Linked DNA regions of Homo sapiens. The protein of the gene in region 1 interacts with the protein of each later gene in a pairwise test. Each region holds a gene or a part of one and is shown on either strand. Other genes may lie near its edges.

The links. Proteins that work in one complex are often made in the same cells at the same time.
Region 2: the proteins of RNF39 (region 1) and RINT1 interact in binary tests that used the Homo sapiens proteins (3 or more experiments, as listed by UniProt).
Region 3: the proteins of RNF39 (region 1) and AP1B1 interact in binary tests that used the Homo sapiens proteins (3 or more experiments, as listed by UniProt).

The regions. Positions count from the first base shown.
Region 1 is NC_000006.12:30,071,973-30,077,704, reverse strand, and holds the start of RNF39 (RING finger protein 39), read left to right. Parts: upstream 1-1,935; 5' UTR 1,936-2,119; coding exon 2,120-2,482; intron 2,483-4,226; coding exon 4,227-4,249; intron 4,250-4,456; coding exon 4,457-4,548; intron 4,549-5,732.
Region 2 is NC_000007.14:105,548,842-105,552,700, forward strand, and holds part of RINT1 (RAD50-interacting protein 1), read left to right. Parts: exon of another isoform or gene 1-126; intron 127-1,213; coding exon 1,214-1,324; intron 1,325-1,419; coding exon 1,420-1,645; intron 1,646-2,728; coding exon 2,729-2,866; intron 2,867-3,859. UniProt on the Homo sapiens protein: Involved in regulation of membrane traffic between the Golgi and the endoplasmic reticulum (ER); the function is proposed to depend on its association in the NRZ complex which is believed to play a role in SNARE assembly at the ER.
Region 3 is NC_000022.11:29,378,571-29,382,429, reverse strand, and holds part of AP1B1 (AP-1 complex subunit beta-1), read left to right. Parts: intron 1-3,859. UniProt on the Homo sapiens protein: Subunit of clathrin-associated adaptor protein complex 1 that plays a role in protein sorting in the late-Golgi/trans-Golgi network (TGN) and/or endosomes.

The DNA.
Region 1 (5,732 bases):
GAGGAGAAAAGGCAATCTTGTGTATTAGTTTCCTATTGATACTGTAACAAATTACCACAAACTTAGGAGCTTGAAACAATACACATTTGTTACTTTATTATTCTGTAGTTCAGAGTCTGAAATGGGTCTTACTGGGCAAAAATTAAGGTGTCAGCAGTGCTAGGTTCCTTCTGAATGGTCTGCTAGAGAATCCATTCCCTCGTCTTTTGCAGCTTCCAGAGGTTACCCACTTCCTTAGCTTGTGGCTTCCTGCCTCAGTCTCCAAAGCCAGCAATGTCAGGCCGATCACTTCTCATGCTGCTATCTCTCTATGCTACCTATCAGAGCATAGAAGTGCATCTTTTACAAAATAGATTTCAGTCACAACTGTAGTCTTATGCTTGGGTATCTGTGTGTTTTATGAGCACTGAGCCGGGAGGGTTGTTCCAAGATGAATGTACGTGTGTTTGTTTGTGTAGGTTTGTTTATCAGGGTGTCATATTTGAGTGTCTCCCCGATAAGTATGGGGGAGGCAGAAGAAGAGTGCCTGGAGGGGGTGCCTAATAAAGTCCTGCTGCTCCATAAAGACTTACTGCTGTTATACTGTTATTCTTATTAATAATAAAACTGATGATAGAGTATCTGTCTCTTTGCCTGTTTTCTTTGAGCATGTCCGTCTGTTCCTAAATAATACTGGACATTTATCCCAGTGATATTCAATGCATATGAGGCTATTCATACACATTATATTTAGCTGTGATGTTTGTATTACATGAATGCTTCTGTCTGCAAGTTTGTGCACATTTGGGCATTTGGACACTGATGGATGCAGACACATGTTATATAACAGTGTGGGTGATCATAGTTGTAGACATCTGGATGTTTACTTATGCACAAACCCCCATGAGTATCCAGTTAGCTAGGCCTGGCATTGGAAGGGTAGAGAAGCTAGGAAGAGGAGGGAGCAGGGAGGAAGAGGAGAGGTGGGGAGAGGAGCAGGTAAGGAGAAAAAGAGAGAATGGAGGTGAGGAATGAAGGCACAAAGGAACACCAGAAAAAAATCAGGAAGCAGGAGGGGGTCCCAGGGATCTGCAACTGAAAAAGGCAGGGTTGACTCACAGCAAGAACACAAGTCAGAAGACCAGGGTAGGGCTCCACTTCTGGTCATTCCCTTGCTATGTGACCTTGGCTATTCCAGTTCTCTGGGCCTCTGTGAACTACCAGAGTTGAAATAGATAATACCGGGTACATTCCAAAGAAGGAAGGAAAGAGAAAACTGGTAATAAAATCACACACGGGGAAAAACAGAGAGAAAGAACCAGAAAGAGAGACTTACGAAGAAAGTAAGGAGAGGCCCTGGGAGCTGGCCAGAGGTAGAGCTGAAAGAGCTCTGCCCCGACTCCCTGAGGCCGAAGTGTGGGCGCCTGCTCCCCACCCCTTACCCCAGAGCTGCAGAATGCCCTTAAGCCCTTAATAGGTAAGGAAGGAAGATGGAAAGGCGAGAGGCACCAGGAATGAAAACCACACATCAACACTCAGAGGCTTGCCAAAGCCACACAAACCAGGATCTGTGCTTCCGGCCCCCAGCCCCCAGATGTAGGTGTGCCAGCCACCTGGAATGACTCGCACCTTGGCAATGTGGGCGCACATGCCAAGAGTGAGCCTGGGCACCCGGCCCATGCGCGTACCACAGGCGGAGGGGAAGGTAAAATTGGGGCTCTTCGGGGGGTCACAGGGGGCTACCCTCCCCACACAGGGCTACCCCGCCCCAGAGCGCCCTCTAGTGACCGCCTCCTAGGCTCTGGGAACCAGGTGTGCTATTCTCCCCTCCCTGCTCCCCCAAACCTTACCCGGGAAGCAGGAGAACCAGATGAGGCGTTACGCAAGGCCTGGTGTTTACCTCCCGTGGGAGCCTCCTCCCTCCCTATAAAGCCTGATGTGGTGGAGAGATTTGACGAGACTGAGACTCTGGTTGAAGAGAGAGGCAATCCCAGGAGAGGGGCGGAAAGCGGCAAAAGTTAATGCGGGAGTCGGAGAGAAGGGCATCTACACAGCAAGCAGCAGGGGCGGCCCGCCATCTGCGCGCTCGAAGGCGGTCACGGTGGTCGCGGAAGGGGCGGCGTCCAGATCCTGGCTTTCCATGGATGCGCCCGAGCTGGGCCCGGGGCTGGTGGAGCGTCTGGAGCAGCTGGCGACGTGTCCTCTGTGCGGGGGCTCCTTCGAGGACCCGGTGCTTCTGGCGTGCGAGCACAGCTTCTGCCGCGCGTGTCTGGCCCGCCGCTGGGGGACTCCGCCGGCGACCGGCACCGAGGCTTCCCCCACCGCCTGTCCCTGCTGCGGCCTGCCGTGTCCCCGCCGCAGCCTGAGGTCTAATGTGCGGCTGGCGGTGGAGGTGCGAATCAGCCGCGAGCTGCGAGAGAAGCTGGCTGAGCCTGGGGCCCGTGCGGGGAGACGCCGAGGGGGGCGCATCCCCACCATGGGCTGCCTGGACCTGCCCGGAGAGGTGAGGCTGGGCGCGCGTCGCGGAGTTGTTGGTGGAAGCGGGAGGTTCCCGGGGAAGCCGGGAATGGCACGTCTGGAGCCGGAGGCCCTGTGGAAGTTTAGGCAAAGGATGGGGTGGGGAGAGAAAAGCAAAGGATGAGGGGGCGAGGACCCTGGGTCCTCAAGGTGAGAGGCGCCCGGAAGGACGATGGATGGAGTTGACACTTGGTCCACAGGGGAGGAGGCTGGACCGATGCCTGAGCCTTGTGAGAGGGGCTGGAGAGAAGAGACTGGGGAGGCAGAGAAGGGGTACCGGATAGAACGCGGAGAGCCCTGGAGTCGCCGCGAAGGGCATGGGAACTGCAGAAGTTTTGGCAGGGCAGCCGCAGGCGCCCGGGAGGAGGAGAGCTGGCGGAGGGGAGGGAGCGGCGGGCGGAAGGGAGAGCCGACCCAGCTGAGGGTGAGGAGGGGTCCTGGGAGGATGGTGGGCGAGGGCAGAACCTGCTTAGAGGAGCGGGAGCAGGAGGCTGGGCTGGTGGGTTGGGGGCGGAGAAAAAGCTGGGGAGGAGGGGACTGACAAGAGGATGGAGGAAGGGAGCAAGGGGTTGGGGCATATCCAAACCTCCCCGTAGCGTCGTGGGGGTTGGTCTCGGACTCTGGCTCAAGCTAAGCCCTGTGTTGTTTGTTATTGTTATTTCGGCTCCTCCCAAGGCCCCAGGCAGGAGCGGCCAGGGGTGGAGGCGAGGTGCGGGAGAACAGCCGCTGGGGCCTCTGGCTCCTCTCCACATCCCAGTCTTACCACCCATCTACCCCCCGCGCCTCTCCTGGGCCCCGGCTCCTTGGCCACTAACCAGCCCATTCCCTTGCCCGACCGACCCCTGGGCGTCTGGGACTCCTGACTGGCTTCTTCCCAGCAGCCAAGCTGGTCTTGGGTCTTGCTTCTGCCCTTTGAAGTCTTCATAGACCTAATTAGTCTGAAAGTAATTGGCACAATTATGCAAATTGTTTCTCTCTCCCCCGCTCCACCATATCGGCCTGCTCCAGCCATCAGCACTAGACAGTGAAGTGGAGGGGTCGGTATCCCAGTGTTTGGAGGGGAGCATCCAGTGCCCTCTCCTGGCTCCCATAGTACTCTGTGGATCTGCTGGGCCTTTTGGGACACATTCAAGTCTAGCTGCCTCCCTGGCCAGGGTCCAGAGACACAAAGCAAAGGGCCCAATAAATGCCACTGGGCTTTTATTGCAAGAGGGGAAGCAGCTTTATTGTAAGGCTTTTATATACCAACTCTTAGCCCGAGGGCTCTGGGTGTGTGTTTGGTCTGTGTGATGGAGGGAGGAAGGGACAGATGTTTTTCTGGGATGCACTGGGGAAGGTAGATAAGGATGGGGCCGCTGAAAGAGACAGAGAATGGGACTGAGGAGGCAGCAAGGAAGGCAAGGGCTCTGAGGACAAGAAACAGTCACGGACGAGCCTGGGAAAAGAGAATTGAGAACCCTTGGGGAGTGGAAAGGGGGAGGACAGTGGGGATGGAGTTAGGAGGATGAGGGAAAAGTGATGGGGTGAGAGGAAGGAGGGATCATGAAAGGTGAAGGAGGAGAATGAGAGGGAAAGGAGCACAGTGTGTAAAGAGGTGAGATCACTCTGAAAGGTGAGGAGGGACACTGCTAACTCAGACAGAACTCACCTGAGGAGGGGAGAGATAGGGAAGGATGCCCCAGGGAATGAAGCCCAGAGCTCACATCCATGTTTGTTTCTGCCCATCCTAGGATATGAGGAAGACATGGAGACGGTGAGTTCCACTTTTCTGTTCCCTCCTTTTCTCACCAGCTGCCATAGCCATCACGTTCTCACTGGGCCCACACCTTTGTTCCCATTAATAGGCAGGTTTTCTGGGGTATAGTCTCATCCCTTCTTCCTCCAGAGATGTGAGTGGGGTATGCGTGGGGGCATTAGGATCAGAGGGCTGATTTCCTGACCCTTCCCCTCATCTGTGTAGATTTGAAGTCCCAACATCCAAGTCATCTAATTCAGAGGATGATCTCCCTGAAGATTATCCAGTGGTCAAAAAAATGCTTCATAGACTGACAGGTAAGGAAAGAAGAAGGGAGGGAAGGGAATTGAATGAAAGTCTGTGTTAGATTTTCTTCCTTTTAGCCCTAAAAAGTGATCAGGTCCTTTTTGATGTCTGCATTAGTTTCCTAGTACTGCTCTAATGAAGCACCGCAAAGTAGGTGGCTGAAACAACAGACATTTATCTCAAAGTTCAGGAGGTAGAAGTCTGAAATCAAGGTGTCAGCAGTGTTGGTTCCTTCTGACGGCCATGAGACAGAATCTGTTCCATGCCTGTCTCCTAGCCTCTGGTAGCCTCACATGTTCTTTGGGTGATAGGTCTGCACATTTTCTTTTGTATGCATTTGTCTCTGTGTCCAAATTTCCTCTTTTTGTAAGTCAGCAATCTGGATTAGAGCCCACCCTAATGACCTTCATTTTAACTTGATTACCTATGTAAAGATCCTGTTTCAAAACAAGGTAACATTCTGAGGTTTGGAGGACTTCAACCTATCTTTGTGTGTGTGTGTGGAGTGGGGGAGGGCACAGTTCAGCCTATAACAATGTCTATCCTCGATTCCTCATATTCCAGCCATTTTCCCTCTTCCTTTTTCATACATTCAAACAACAGATCCCTGAAGGTTAGGTGCCTCTCAAAAATCTCTGCTTCCACCACCTCTCGTCACTCCTCCCTGGAAGGGGACCCCAGCATCTCCTTGACCCTTCTTTCCTCACTCACTCCCAAGAAGAAGGGTGCCTCTACCCTTCTTTAAACTGCCTAGAGAAGGTGGTCCACCATCTTGGTCATCCACCATCTTGCCCAGTCCAGATTGCTTCTGACACCCCTAATCCAGAAATTTTTCTTCAAAGCACCCCATACATATAAGGCCAATGGTTCTTTTTCTGGTCTCTGGCTATCACCACCTGCTCTCCTCCTCTGCCCCACAACCCCTACAGAAATAGGACTGTCCACCCCACCCCCCAATTCCTGTGGGTGGGTGGGCTGGTTTCTCAGGATACCTTGGATTCCTCCCTGTGCCCCTCCCATTACTTGAGGTTCCAGTATCAGTACGACTTTCTCTTTAGATGAACCTTCCCCATTTTGCTGACCCAGCTCCCATGCCCCACCCCAGATGATGCAGATTGAGGTATCAGTCCTTACTCCTCCCTCGAAGTCAGATCAGCCTCACTCTTCCTCCCCCAACCCCACAAACGAGACAACC
Region 2 (3,859 bases), on another chromosome or scaffold:
TTTTGTTACTGCTGTTCATACATATAATTGAGGACTTGTGTTCATATACTGTAGGAAAAATGGTATTTCCGCTCTTGGGCATCAGATATTGCTGAGTTATCATTGCAAAACAAAGCAAAGCAAATAGTAAGCACTTGGTATTTCTTTTCTTTTTTTTTTTTTGTGAGTTGGAGTCTCGCTCTGTCACCCAGGCTGGAGTGCAGTGGCACAATCTCTGCTCACTGCAACCTCCACCTCCCAGGTTCAAGCGATTCTCCTGCCTCAGCCTCCCAAGTAGCTGGGACTACAGGCACATGTCACCACACTGGACTAATTTTTGTAATTTTAGTAGAGATGGGTTTCACCATATTGGTCAGGCTGGTCTGGAACTCCTGACCTCAGGTGATCCACCTGACTTAGCCTCCCAAAGTGCTGGGATTACAGGAGTGAGCCACTGCGCCTGGCATGTACTTGGTATTTCTGCTCTTAAACCTGTATAAGACATGCGTAGTTTTTGTAATGCAGACTAGCAATTTTTTTTTTTTGGAACGAAGTTTCACTCTTGTTGCCCAGGCTGGAGCGCAATGGTGTGATCTCGGCTCACTGCAACCTCTGCCTCCCGCGTTCAAGCGATTCTCCTGCCTCAGCCTCTTGAGTAGCTGGGATTACAGGTGCCCACCACCACGCCCAGCTAATTTTTGTATATTTAGGTGAGACGGGGTTTCACCATGTTGACCAGTCTGGTCTTGAACTTCTGACCTCAGCTGATCCACCCACCTCGGCCTCCCAAAGTGCTGGGATTACAGGCATGAGCTGCCACGCCTGGCCAGCAATTTTTTTCTTGATTTACTTTTTGAAAATAAAAACCATAAGAAAATAATATTAAAATTATTTTCAAATGCTATTTCAAAAAATATAGGCCATCAGTTCTTTGTAATACTCATCATTTTACATATTATTGAAGTGCTAGGTTTTAAATATATATGGCATTGTAAATTTATGAGTTTATTGACTTAAGTCATATTATTGAAATTTGTTGGGAGTACATTAGCAAACATTTGATTATTAAGCCTTGCAGGAGTTTAAAATTTGGAGTAGAAATTGTGCTCTTACATACAGGAATTTTCAACTAATTTTTATAAGTGTTGTGCATATACAATTAAATAGAACCATGTAATTGTAACTTTCTAATTGGAATGACTTAAGAATTCAAACTATTTTCCTCCTTCCTTAGCCAGAATGGTACTTGGCTCAAGTACTTATGTGGATTGGAAACCATACTGAATTTCTGGATGAGAAGATTCAGCCAATATTAGACAAAGTAGGCTCTTTGGTAAACGCAAGGGTAAGAGACTCAGTCATAAGTGTTTCTGTTTTAGAACTGTATGTGTGCATGGATAACTTTTTATTTACATACCTCATGTTTGTGTATTTTTTTAGCTTGAATTTTCTCGGGGCCTTATGATGCTGGTTCTTGAGAAGTTAGCCACTGATATTCCTTGTCTGCTATATGATGACAATCTCTTCTGTCATTTGGTGGATGAAGTACTCTTGTTTGAAAGGGAGCTACACAGTGTTCATGGCTATCCTGGCACTTTTGCTAGTTGTATGCATATTCTATCAGAGGAAACCTGTTTTCAGAGATGGTTGACGGTGGAGAGAAAATGTAAGTGCTGATGTGGCCAGATGGTAGGGAGATATGTCTGTTTCTGTGGGTATACATTTTTGATATTTTTCTTCTCCAGTTCTAAATAGGAACTAGAGCCATTTGAAATTTCCTTTTCAGGGTTTTCTGTTTCCTTCAGAGATAATCTTTTCTTTACTTCACATGAAACTTCCATTTTTCCTGAAATTACACTCTACATATTTCTAGAGTGGAATAGTCAAGCCAGTGGGGTGTTTGTTTTATAGATTTTATCATATAATTTATTTTATTTTTATTTATTTATTTTGGGACAGACTCTTGCTCTGTTGTCCAGGCTAAAGTGCAGTAGTTTGATCTCAGCTCATTGCAACCTCCACCCCCTGCGTTCAAGCGATTCTCCTGTCTCAGCCTCCCGAGTAGTTAGGATTACAGGCACGCACTACCACGCCTGGCTAATTTTTCTGTTTTTAGGAGTGACAGGGTTACAACATGTTGGCCAGGCTGGTCTGGAACTCCTGACTTCAAGTAATCCACCTGCCTTGGCCTCCCAAAGTGTCAGAATATTTTATTTTTTTATTTTTGAGATAGGGTCTCACTTTGTCACCGAGGCTAGAGTGGAGTGGGCCGATCATGGCTTACTGCAGCCTCGACCTCTGGGGCTCAGGTGATCCTCCTGCCTCAGCCACCCCAGTAGCTGGGAGTATAGGTATATGCAAGCCATGCCTGGCTACTTTTTGTATTTTTTGTAGAGATGGGGTTTCCCTGGGGTTTTGCCCAAGCTGGTTGTGAACTCCTAGACTCAAGCAATCCACCCACCTTGGCCTCCTGGAGTGCTGGGATTACTGGTGTGAGCCACCGTGCCTGGCCAATAGAATATTTTTTACTGTAGCTTATCTAGTCAACATAACTATTTTCAGAATTTGGGGATGGGAGTAAAGTATCCTGTTTAAAGCATTAATTAAGTTAAATTTAGTACAACCAGTGGGATATTGTAGGTTTGTTTCTTTTTTATAGAAAAGCCATCATTCCTAAAAAATTACAAGTTGAATAATTAGGAACGACTGTAACTACTTAATTGACATAATTGTTTTGTCTGCTTATCAGTTGCTCTTCAAAAAATGGACTCAATGCTTTCCTCAGAAGCTGCCTGGGTATCGCAATATAAGGATATCACTGACGTGGATGAAATGAAAGTTCCAGATTGTGCAGAAACTTTTATGACTCTACTCTTGGTTATAACTGGTAAGTATGTCTTTTAAGATATGACTTTGTTTTAAAAGTACTGTTTTCACGTGGTAGTTTTTAAAGTAGCTCAGTAGGCTGGGTGCAGTGGCTCATGCCTGTAATCCTAGCACTTTGAGAGGCTGAGACGGGCAGGTTGCTTGAGCCCAGGAGTTCGAGAACAGCCTGGGGTACATGGTGAAATGCCCTCTCTTCCGAAAAAATACAGAAATTAGCCAGTTGTGGTGGTGTGTGCCTGTAGTCCCAGCTACTTGGGAGGCTGAGGTGGGAGGATTTTTTGAGCATGGGAGGTAGAGGTTGCAGTGAGCCATGATCACGCCACTGCAGTCCAGCCTTGGTGACAGAGTGAGACCCTGTCAATAAAGTAATCAATAAATAAGTGGCTCAGCAAATTAATATTATATGATGGTTGTTATCTTCAAATTCAGTTTCTATATTGGTAGAAATCTAACACAATATTCTAACTTTTGGGTTTTTAATAATTTAAGGATTTAAACATTGGTATACATGAAGGAAAACTTCCTGAATAATTACACAAAAACAATTAAATAGGAATTTAATTTTATTATCCAAACTGTCTTGCTATTGGGCTTTTTAGGTGTCTTCAGTAAATGGTGATTGGCCTATATTTTAAATATTGTCTTGATCTTGATTTATCAAAGATTGCAGAAGAGAGTAAAATAATGAAGTAATTTTAAGGATTGGAGTAGTAATAGGAACTTTTGTTACAGTGCAGGGATTCTCTGGCTGGAGGGTAGCCTAGCATCCTCTGGCCCTGGTTGGTCTTTAGCCAATCACGTTGCCCCCTTGTGGGCCTGCTTGTTGTCCAGGTGCCACTGGACCCTCATTGCCACCATCCCTGGCCCTCTTCACCTTCGTCAACCACTAGCCTGTCCGTTTCTTAGGCTTGTCTGGTAACCTGAAGAAGTATCATTCCAGCCCAGTCAGTAAATAATTCCTTTTTTTTTTTTTTTTTTTTTTTTTGAGATGGAG
Region 3 (3,859 bases), on another chromosome or scaffold:
CACGAAAGATGCTCAGGAAATGTATGAATAAGAACACTGAAGGATGTGGACAGAGAAATACCTTCTTAAGGTTGTACATGCATGGCCAGGTGCCGTGGCTCATGCCTGTAATCCCAGCTACTTGGGAGGCTGAGGTGGGAGGATCATTTGAGGCCAGGAGTTCAAGACCAGCCTGGATAATTTAGCGAGACTCCACAAAAAACTTGAAAAGATTAGCTGGGCATGGCACACGCCTGTAGTCCCAGCTACTCAGGAGGCTGAAGCAGAATTGCTTGAGCCCAGTAGTTTGATGCTGCAGTGAGCTATGATCACACCCCTGCACTCTAGCCTGGGTGACAGAGCAAGACTATCTGTCTCTAGCAACAACAACAAAAAAGATAGTACATGTAGGAAAGGTATTTTTTTTTTGTTTCTTTTTTTAAGCATCAGAGGTATCACGCTGAAGGGAAGTTATCTTTGAAATGAGATCATCTAAGCTGAGATTTGAAGGATAAATTGGAGCAGTTAGGAGAGGATAATCCAAGCAGAAGGATCAGCAAGGGTAGAGATAGTGAAGAGTTGGCTGTTAGAGGAACAAAGAAGGCATGTGGGCCTGGAGGCAAGGACCTGGTACTTATATCCTGTGCCAGAGCCCCCCACCTTCTGCAGCTCTGTCACTCTGAGCTGATACCTATGGGAGCAGGTGAGAGTGACTTGGCCTCACTGAACGTTTCTCCCACTGGAGATGTTGCCACCTGATCTTCTACCCTTGCCATTTCTTCTCTCTCTCATAATTTATTCACTTAACTTCCATTTATTGGCTGTAAATGTGCTAGGGGTCTGGCATGTTCAATTTCAGTATAGTTAGAATAGCTTGACAATCAGAGCAGATGTATCTCTGATCCTGGATAACCCCGTGAATGGAACATGGAGAAGCTGCTCTAGCAGAGGTTGGTTTACAAAACATGAAATTTGCCCAAGAAGAGAGTTGAGCACTGGTCATTCAGCTACTTATTGAACACCTGTTTGCCAGGTACCAGCCTAGGAGTCAGGAATATGATAGTGAACAAAATGGACAAAATCCTTACCCCCATTTACATTAGGGAATTTATAGGGGGAGAAAGAATAGACAACGTAAGTATATTTTATAGTGTGTAGGTAATAGGTAATAAGTACTTTGAAGGGAAAAAGGGCAAAGAGGGTTAGGAAGTGGTGGGGATTATGGGGGAGGGGTATACAATTTTAAATAAAATGGTCAAAGAAGGCCTCAATGAGAAGATGACATTTGAGCCAAGACCTAAAGAGGTGAGGGACTGAGCCATGAGGCTGTCTGGAGAAAGAGCCTTCCTAGCAAAGTGAATAGCACGGGCAAAGGCCCTGGGGTGGATGCATGTTGTGTTCGAGGATCAGTAAAGAGGCCTGTGCGGCTGGAGCTGAGGGAATGATGGGGAGAAGAGTTCAAAGGGTAATGGCCAGCAGGGTGCATGCGTGAGAGAGGAGGGGCATGCATCTCTTATAGGACCTGTGGGCTATGAGGCCATGGTAGGGACTTTGGCTTTTACTATGAGTAAGACAGAGAACCGTTGGAAGACGTTGAGCAGAGGGGTGCTACTGTCTGATTTGGACTGTAAGAGGATCATCCTGGCTGTTGCTGAGATGGGGTGTCAGCAAAGCAGTGTGGGAGCAGCTTTGTTAGCACTCTAAATGGAAGGTGATGCTGGCTTGGAGCTGGGGTTAGTGATGGAGCTAGTGAGAAGCTGCTCATGGATTCTAGATTCATTTTGAAGGTCGGAATCCAATAGGATTTGCCGATAGATTTAAAGGAGAGTATGTTGTTAAGAGTGACTCAGGTTTTTAGCCTGAGGCCCTCTTAAAGATGGTGCTGGCAGGAACTAGATGATGTAGACTGCAGGGTGAGCCAGTTGGGGAAAGGAAGGAAGCAGGAGGTCAGTTTTTATCCCATTGTTTGAGCTGCCTGCTAGTCATCTCCACAGTAATGTGGAGATGTCAGTTACACAGTTTGGACATGTGTGCCCGGGGGTTCTGGGGAGAGGTTGGGCTATGTGGATGGTATGTAAAGCTGTGATACCGGATGATCCACCAAAGAGGCAAAATAGCATAGATGGGGAAGAGAAGAGGTACCAGGCCTGAGCCCTGGGGCACACAGTGTTGAAGGAGAAGGAGAGGAACAAGCAAAGGAGACTGAGAAGGCGCAGACAGTGGCGTAGGAGGGCAGGCAGAGAGCATGGCATCCTAGCATTTGAGGGAAGACAGGTTTTCAGGAAGGAGGGAGTGATCAGTAGTGTCAAATGCTTATCAGCATGAGACTTGTCATTTGACATGACCATTGTGTCTTCTCCTGGCAGGACCCAACACACCTGGCATCCAGAACCATTTCTGAATCTCATTCTTCCTTCCCTAGCCTCGTCTGCTCCTTTCCCTTCCAGGTCCTTTCCTTCAGCCAGGCAGCGGGGCTCACAGACTTCTTGTTTTGGCCTTAGGTAAATCACTCATCTCTCAGTGTCTCTAATTCCTTGTTTTTTAACTGAATTACCCTGAGAATTAAATGAGAAGGGTTGTAAATCACTTAGCAAGAAGCCGTTCCCCAGCTAGTGTTGATTTAATTGTTGTCAGTTCCCTCCGTTGTCACATTGGCAATTTCGTGGTGCATCTCTTTGCCACCTCCACTCTTGCCTCTCTAAATCTGACCTGTCTTTTTGCGTCAGCCAAGCCCCTCTTCATCTAAGAGAACTTCCCTTGCTGCTCCACCTATCTCAGAACCCTCCTCCTCTGGAGGCATGATCACTCTGCCGTTCCCCTGCAGTCCTTTACCTGGCCTCTAAATCTGTAAGAGCTCAGTGAGAAAAGACTGTCCTTTGTTTACTGTGTGCATGCTTCCGTGTGGGGCACAGTTCCAGGCATGGAGCGGATGGTGCTCTACACTGTTAATTTGACAGATCTTCAGAAAGTGTTCCCATTACATAGATGGGAAAACCGAGATCACAAAGAGCGTTGTTCTGTAGTCTCTGGCCTCTTTCTCCTCATCTCGATTAATTTAAGTATTGTTCAGAAGAAGCCTTACTTACTTTATTTTCAAGTCCAGAGGAACTTTTTCTTTTTTTGAGATGGAGTCTTGCTCTGTCACCCAGGCCAGAGTGCAGTGGTGCGATTTCAGGTTCAAGCAATTCTCCTGCCTGAGACTCCTGAGTAGTTGGGACTATAGGTGCGAGCCACCATGTCCAGCTAATTTTTGTATTTTTAGTAGAGATAGGTTTCGCCATGTTGGCCAAGCTGGTCTCGAACTCCTCACCTCAAGTGATCTGCCCACCTCGGTCTCCTAAAGTGCTGGGATTACAGGCATGAGCCACTGCGCCCATCACTTTTTTTTCTTCACAGCAGATCTTTCCGCACATTACGGCTTATAGATCAGTTCAGAACTGGTACCTGATTCTAGAATGGAGTTCTAGAGACTCAAAGCCAATATAAGAACGTTTGCATGTGACATTTGTCTGCCTTTAGTTCCTTTTCATTCTGAAGTCTTTAATTGCTAGTGGGCCTCAGGAAACTGACTTTTTTTTTTTTTTTTTTTTGTGGGACGGAGTCTTGCTCTGTTGCCCAGGCTGGAGTGCAGTGACACGATCTCAGCTCACTGCAAGCTCCGCCTCCTGAGTTCACACCATTCTCCTGCCTCAGCCTCCCGAGTAGCTGGGACTACAGGCACCCGCCACCAGGCCCAGCTAATTTTTTGTATTTTTAGTAGAGATGGGGTTTCACCGTGTTAGCCAGGATGGTCTCGATTTCCTGACCTCATGATCCGCCCGCCTCGGCCTCCCAAAGTGCTGGGATTACAGGCGTGAGCCACTGCGCCCGGCCTTTTTTT